Homo sapiens: one gene and its partner. The protein of the gene in region 2 purifies or fractionates together with the protein of the main gene of each other region. This does not show direct contact. Each region holds a gene or a part of one and is shown on either strand. Other genes may lie near its edges.

Region 1 (3,651 bases), on a different chromosome or scaffold from region 2:
AATTCTGGGAGTAAGTGGTTTTCTAGTTCATGGGGGAGGAAAACAGATACGTGCAAGATCTCCAGAGGAGAACAGAACCATGGTACTCAGTGAGTCACCAAAGGGCTTTGGCTTCAACTCACTAATGGCTGGAACAAGTGCCAGTCTTGGTCAGCCATCCAGGATTTTCATCACAGCAAATCAAAATCTCCAATTTTTCAAACTAATTGTAGGTAGAAGAGAGAGAATAACTCCAAACTGTCTTATAAAAGGATCTAGATGACTACTGAAGTGTCCTCCATTCATGAGTTGGCAAAATCTTCAGAGTGACTGTTGGAGCAAGGAGCCTTTCATGTGCTCCCAGTTATTATATAGTGCATAGAGGCTGGTAAGTGTTAGTCCTGTCAGACCACCTCGTGCTATCCCTCGAAGACCACCTGGGAAACAGAGACAAAAGGAAAATGAAATAGCTGTATATTGCATAGTGCCCTAGCACGATAGGGTTAAATAAAAAGTACTGTGAAATGGGCTGGGCACGGTGGCTCAGGTAATCCCAGCACTTCGGGAGGCCGAGGTGGGTGGATCGCTTGAGGATAGGAGTTCAACCAGCCTGGCCAACATAGTGAAACCCTATTAAAAATTCAAAAAAATTGGCTGGGTGTGGTGATGTGTGCTTATAGTCCCAGCTACTTGGAGGCTGAGGCAGGATAATCACTTGAACCCAGGAGGCTGAGGTTGCAGTGAGCTGAGATCATACCACTGCATTCCAGCCTGGGCGACAGGATGAGACAAGTGAGACTCCGTCAAAAAAAAAAAAAAAAAAAAAAAATACTATGAAATGGAGAGACCATTTTAAAAATAAATCAATATTCCATCTCAAAAAGGAGACAACGTTTTTAAAGTAATACCACTTGTGTAATACATATGACTTAACATTTTCATATTCATAATTTTTTTCCCCCTACTTTCCAATTTGTTCCTATGGCAGTTTATTACGGAGTTCCAACTAGAACAGTCGTTTCCTGCTAGTAATATGATTTAGAACTCCACTAGCACTGTCAATGGATTTAAGTCTGTAATGTAAACAAGGTGACACCCTATTTGGAAAGAGTATTAACAACCTTTGGACTCTGGATGGGTCCTCCAAATATTAACCTTGAAGATTAGTGACGGCCAGGCATGGTGGCTCACACATGTAATCCCAGCACTTTGGGAGGCTGAGGCAGGCTTGAGCTCAGGAGTTTGAGAACAACCTAGGCAACACGGCAAAACCCTGTCTCTGCAAAAAATAGAAAAATTAGCTTAGTGGGGTGGCATGCGCCTGTGGTCCCAGCTATTTGGGAGGCTGAGGTAGGAGGATCGCTTGAGCCCAGGAGGTCGAGGCTGCAGTGAGCTGAGATTACACCACTGCACTCCAGCCTGGGTGACAGAGTGAGAAAGAAAAAAAAAATGTGGTAAGATAGCTATAATCACACTTTGAGTTAGATGCTGGTGACCACCCCCCACTTCATGCACTGACGCATCAATCTCCCACAATTAAAAAACAGTGAGTGACACCTAGCATCATGCTAGTTGAAAAGAACTCAAGAATTACAGATATTGAACTACCTGCTTGATAACAAGTGAACAATTTTACATGTGGCAAAAGATTAGCAACAAGGATTTCACTTGCAATGGAGAAACAAAAATATTTCAATCGGTTACTTAAAAATAGTCCCCAAGTGTAAATAAAAGGAAGCTACAGATAAATTTCTCAAAATAAAAAGGCCTAACTGCTTATGGTTATAAAATGTTAGTCTTACAAACGTAATGTGGCAAAGAGAAACCAAGCTACAAAACTCCTCAGGAATGGGGGTGCCCAAAGCAGCTTTTTAAAAAATGTGAAGTCCTCAAGCAGCTCCATGAGTAGGGATCATAAACTTCAGGTAGCCATCTTTGTACCTAGAGTGTATTTGTTCCAAGTCATGTGTTAGGGAGACAGAGGTAGAGCGGAGTTGTGGGGGTGGCTAGAGGCCCTTTTAGCTCCGTGCCTGTCAATTCTGTGACATTCAGTGATGTTGCTGAGTTACAACATTTCAGAACTAACCATTTCTGCAACGAGCGTCCTACCAGATGGCTTCAGCTGATGGATTAAAGGGCCACTCCCCCTCCAGGAATCTCTCCAGTCTGAAGACTTCTGATAGCTGACCTGCTTACGTTCTTCTTAGTTTTCCAATGCTAAGTGTCATAATTATCTCTCTCAAACAGAAACTGCAGACATTATCTATAAACAGCTGTCATGTAGGGGGACCAAAAACATTTTTAAGAAACCCAAAAAAACCCCACTAAAAGTATAACATGAGGTATCTCCTTGAAGTTCACATCATCTCTTTGTGAACTTGCCATATTCAGACTGTAGGCACAGCAATTAAACTTCCAACTGTATTCAATGTGGTTGAAAAATTGTACTAATTGGAAAATAGTGTATACTCAAAATAATCTGTTCAGTTTAATAAGGATCGACCTCATGTCTCTGCCTAGTAAATCAGTAAAAAGCTGCAGAGCTGAAAGTGAACTAGACCAAATTCCTAATGTGGAAAAAATAAGCCATGAGGCACAGGAGAATAAATGCTAAAGGTATCTGCAACAGCATTGCTATCGCTCAGTTATTAGATCTAATTTTGAGTGTAATAAGGATTCTTCCAAGCAGGTAGCCAAAATGTAGTAACTCAAAACCCCATTCTGAATGTAAGACCAAGCAATAGCCAAGGTGCCCTCACTGCTGTTTGTCAGTGGAAAAATGCTGGTGGGCCGGTAATTGAAAACACAATACTTTTGCAGACACTATTTCCTATAACCACACATTCAACTTCAGATTAACTCCCCTGAACCTATAAGTCAATAATCCACAGGACTGTGAAGTCAGTCCATGGGCTTTGGAAAGAGCTGCAAAACCACTGCTTCTAGCTGGTTCTTTGCTTTGTGCATTCTAAGAACATGGTATCTACTTGGCCCTTGTGGAAGGATTCTCACATTAGTTCTCAGCCATCAAATAACAAGCTTCCCTGGGAATCCTCTTTGGCATATGCACTAGGGGTAACATAGTGACAGTGGAATCTATAAGGCTTTAAGATACTTGGGGGCTGGACGTGGTGGCTCACACTTGTAATCCCAGCACTTTGGAAGGCCAAGGTGGGCGGACTGCTTGAGCCCAGGAGTTCAAGACCAGCGTGGGCAACATGGTGAGACCCCATCTGTTGCGGGAAGTCAGGGACCCCAAACGGAGGGACCGGCTGAAGCCATGGCAGAAGAACATGGATTGTGAAGATTTCATGGACATTTATTAGTTCCCCAAATACTTTTATAATTTCTTATGCCTGTCTTTACTGCAATCTCTAAACATAAATTGTGAAGATTTCATGGACACTTATCACTTCCCCAATCAATACCCTTGTGATTTCCTATGCCGCTGTCTTTACCTTAATCTCTTAATCCTGTCAGCTGAGGAAGATGTATGTCGTCTCAGGACCATGTGATAATTGCGTTAACCGCACAAATTGTAGAGCATGTGTGTTTGAACAAATATGAAATCTGGGCACCTTGAAAAAAGAACAGGGTACCAGCAATGTTCAGGGAATAAGAGAGATAACCTTAAACTTTGACCGCCAGTGAGCCAGGTGGAACAGAGCCATA
Region 2 (3,751 bases):
AAGGCCCCTGCAAAAATAGGTGAAGAGGAACCTTTCATTGTAAACTTCTGACGATAGTGGTTAAGAGGCATACTTGGAGTTTTCTCACACTCAAAAAAACTCAAACCAAGTGATTTTTATCTCAAATCTACCTCTCCAGATGGTTGGTGAGGATTCAATGAAGTGTTAAGTTATGCATCAATTTCAAAAGAGTCAGTTTTGAAACCTGTGGTTCTCCAAGCTCTAAAATCCTAAGCTATTTGTCCTAATGACACAGCAGACTGAACTCTAGAATACCACAGGAATATCACACCACTGCAAATTACTAGGTGGTGCTGAGTCTCCCAAAACACAGAAGTGAAACAAAAGCATTGCACTGTTTTTGAAATGCATATTCGATATGGACTAATCAAATAGGTTTTGAGATTATTTTCCTGGAGGCAGAATTATTCCGCACGGTTACACAGCCCTTAGTTTTCCCCTTTGTTGTATCTATCTATGTATAAACACATGGCCTATATAGTAGGCTATTTTCCTCTCGCTGAAGCTTCTGAAGACAAGGCCTTTTTGTCAAGGGTAAGTGCAAAACCAGTCAACCTTACAAAAGGAGTCATTTAATGCTCAATTTTCCAACTTTCCTATGATTAAACACTTCTAAGCTCAAACGCTGTTATTGTAATCTAGATGGTGTTTTCTTTCCCCCTTCCCCAACAAATGTTTAAATTGTCTCCGCTGGATTCCCCCATCCCCAACTCCCCCCTACCCCCATCTGACCTTGAAAACAGAGAAGTTTTCCTTTTCTCTACTTACCCTAAACTATTTAAAAATGGAGGCCCTCTGACCTTTTTACAACACTCTTCTTGTCTGACACACCAAATGTTAATCTGAAAGCCAAGAGGAGGGAAAAGGTCTTGCAGGGCGGGGAGGGGGTTGTGGAAAGGGGGTGGAGGTACTATATATTTGGCATCAGCTCAGAAATTCAGAAATGTTTGTGCAACCACTCCCCCAGCCAGGATCCTCCCCCACCCCCCACCCGCAACTGCCTTCTAACACATTAATAAAAAAAGATGTGAGCAGACGAAATTGGAGAGCCCAGGAGGGACAGCTAAGGCGGTCATGATTTTGTACCCAGGCAAGACCACTGATCACCATCCCACATGTCCACCCCTCCTCCCTCCCTTCCAACGTGCCAAGTTTAGGATTGGGACCTCTGCAGCTTCCACCCCCATCCCCTGAGGTGGCCCGGTAAACTTGCGGCAGTACCACCCATTAACAGCTTGTGTGAGGCAAACGGAAGGACTGACACAGCAGCCTCTGCGCGTCGGGACAGCAGCGCTGTGCACCTTAAGAATCGTTTATGTTCTTTAAAAAAAAAAAAGAAAAAAAAGTGCAATGAGCGCACAGGCCTGGAATACATTAACTTGTGAACCGACTCTATCACAACTCGAGAGAGTCCGTCTCTCCCTCAAACAAAAAGAAGGTGGGGGCGGGGGAGAAAGGCCAAGGCACATTACCATCCTGTCCCGAGCTTTCCAGATACTCCGTCAGGTCACAGCCAAACGCGCTGGCGGCTCCCTTTCGTTTCAGCTTCTGCTTAGCACCCTTGTTCTTCATGAGTTAGTCCCAAAGAGGCTGCCCCTCCGTCTCTGCCGCCCCTCTGCTTGGCACCGCTGTAAGATGGGCTCCCGGGCTAGATCACCGGCTGCCCCGCGGCTCTGGGGGGCCGCATCGGAAGATGGAAGAACTTGGGCTGGGGGCCCTGCGCATGGACCCCGCGGGCCGCGGGCCGGCAGAGCCTGAGATCCACCCCGCGCCGCTCCGGGGCCGCCGTGCCGAGGCCGTGCAGACTGGCAGCCGCGGGCCGGCTCGCCTGGGAGTGTCACTTCCTCACTTGGAGTCCTAGGGACTTTCACAGGCTCCTGCGGTGTCTTCGGGTGTTTCTCCTCAGCTTAAGAGGGAGGGCAAGCTCTCCCCACCCCTTACTAAGTGCCCCGGAGACGACGCGGACGCGGGGCGAGGAGACTGCCCAGGGGGCTGCGGTGGGTCCTGCGCCCTGGGCCCGCTGTCTCGCCTTCAGACGACTTTGGTAGAGCGAAAAACAAGCATCCTGTCGCTGCTGCCCGCCCTCACGCCTTCCTTTTTTTCCTGTCTTACAAATCCTAGGATCATCCAGCTCAGGAAATGCTGGAAGGAAGTTAGCTAGGGAGGGGGGCGGTGGGTGGAAATTTTTGGCAGCTCGGTGCTTGTGAGTGTGTGGAGCTAGAGGAAGTAGGTGGGTGGGTTGAGGAGCACGGGGTTGGGGTAGAGAACGCGTTCTCCCGAGAGCAGTTCTGCGACTCCAGAGATAACTGGGCAGCCCCGGAGGAAATCGCGCTCTTCTCGCAGGACCCGCAGCCGCAGCCGCCGCTTCCTGCCCCGCCGAGCCGGCTCTTTGAAGTGGCGGGAGGAGGTGCGCTGGCATTCTGCGGGGACCGTGCTGGTTGGGACTTTCAGAACCCTCTGCCCTGGTTTTATCCTCATTGTCATCGTATCTTTGACACTTTCTATTTCGGTGCCCGCCTGTCTGCTACGCAAATACTTAAAGAGTAATGACAGAGACAAACAGGGGACTCCAGCGGAGAAACCTGACAGGCAGTGGCTTCACGCCGGCCACTCCCATCCCAACCTCCTCTGCAGCGTTCGTGCACCCCCACCTCAGCTCACTCCCCTCCCACTCTGGGGTAAAGATACCCCTGGGCAAAGAGAGGCTGCAGCTTTGTAACCACTGCCCAGGAAATCAGATTTCTGGTTACATATTCAAGACACACACACACACTACTGCAAAGTTTTCTAAATGGAAGTGATTTGGGGGGGACAAACCAGGATTTAAGATGCCTCTGACACATGAAATGTGAAGAAAGCAGTCTCCCAGGTTCTTTCATAATTTGTTTCAAGTTGTTTCAAGAGGGCATGTTTTTTTCTTCTCCAGTTAGATTTTAAATTCTTTAACTTCTGTGTACTCAGCACACAGAAAGCACTCAAATTCTTGTGATTTAACCATTTGAGGATTAGATGAAACTTCCTGTATAAATTCAAATCCATATACAGGCTTGAAGGATAGGGGCATATGTCATACAGCTCAGATTGCTGGCAAAGCTGCATCCGTAGCATTTTAGGTACTGAATCCCTTTACAGTCACTGTCTCTCTATGTAACCTTAACAGTCTATGAACTTTGACCCTTGACATTTTCTCTATGTCAGAGGTCACAACTTGATAGCCACCCTGCCAGATCTGGCCCATAGATGTACTTGGCTGGCAGACACCATGCTTTAACACGTTTTAAAATTAGTAGCTAGCATTAAAAAGTTAAGAGATTTCACATAAAATCTGAATTTCTGGCTTCTCTTGAAAAAATGGAAGATCTAGTTACACCACAAGTGCATTCCCATATGGCAAGGACGGCTGATGCTGAGTTGTGGCAGGCCCCTTGGAGGCACCCTCTTTAGAGAGACGACTCTTGCAGTTTTGCAGACCCCACGGCCTGTCTTCCCCCTTTTGCACCTGCCTGGCCTCTGCTGCCACTTGAGTTTGCAGCCCAACCTCTATGAATTGTCTTTCCTGTTTTTCATTTTCCATCTCTCAGTGACACTGAGAAGCATTTGCCCCAGTCATCTTGGTGAAATGTCTTCAAGTAACCACAGACTCATTTGTCTCCTTCCTCTCCCACCTGCAAGGTAGTCCCGCCCAGACGATGAGCTCTTCACCATGCCTCTCAGCTTGGTTTATTCCTTT

What was found.
Region 1: the proteins of ARHGAP31 (region 2) and TIMM23 purify together in Homo sapiens (affinity purification with mass spectrometry; one large-scale study listed by BioGRID and IntAct). This does not show direct contact.

Annotation. Positions count from the first base shown.
Region 1 is NC_000010.11:45,999,968-46,003,618, reverse strand, and holds part of TIMM23 (mitochondrial import inner membrane translocase subunit Tim23), read right to left. Parts: intron 1,259-3,651; exon of another isoform or gene 1,135-1,258; intron 417-1,134; coding exon 301-416; 3' UTR 1-300. UniProt on the Homo sapiens protein: Essential component of the TIM23 complex, a complex that mediates the translocation of transit peptide-containing proteins across the mitochondrial inner membrane.
Region 2 is NC_000003.12:119,292,747-119,296,497, reverse strand, and holds the start of ARHGAP31 (rho GTPase-activating protein 31), read right to left. Parts: upstream 2,116-3,751; 5' UTR 1,594-2,115; coding exon 1,494-1,593; intron 1-1,493. UniProt on the Homo sapiens protein: Functions as a GTPase-activating protein (GAP) for RAC1 and CDC42. Required for cell spreading, polarized lamellipodia formation and cell migration.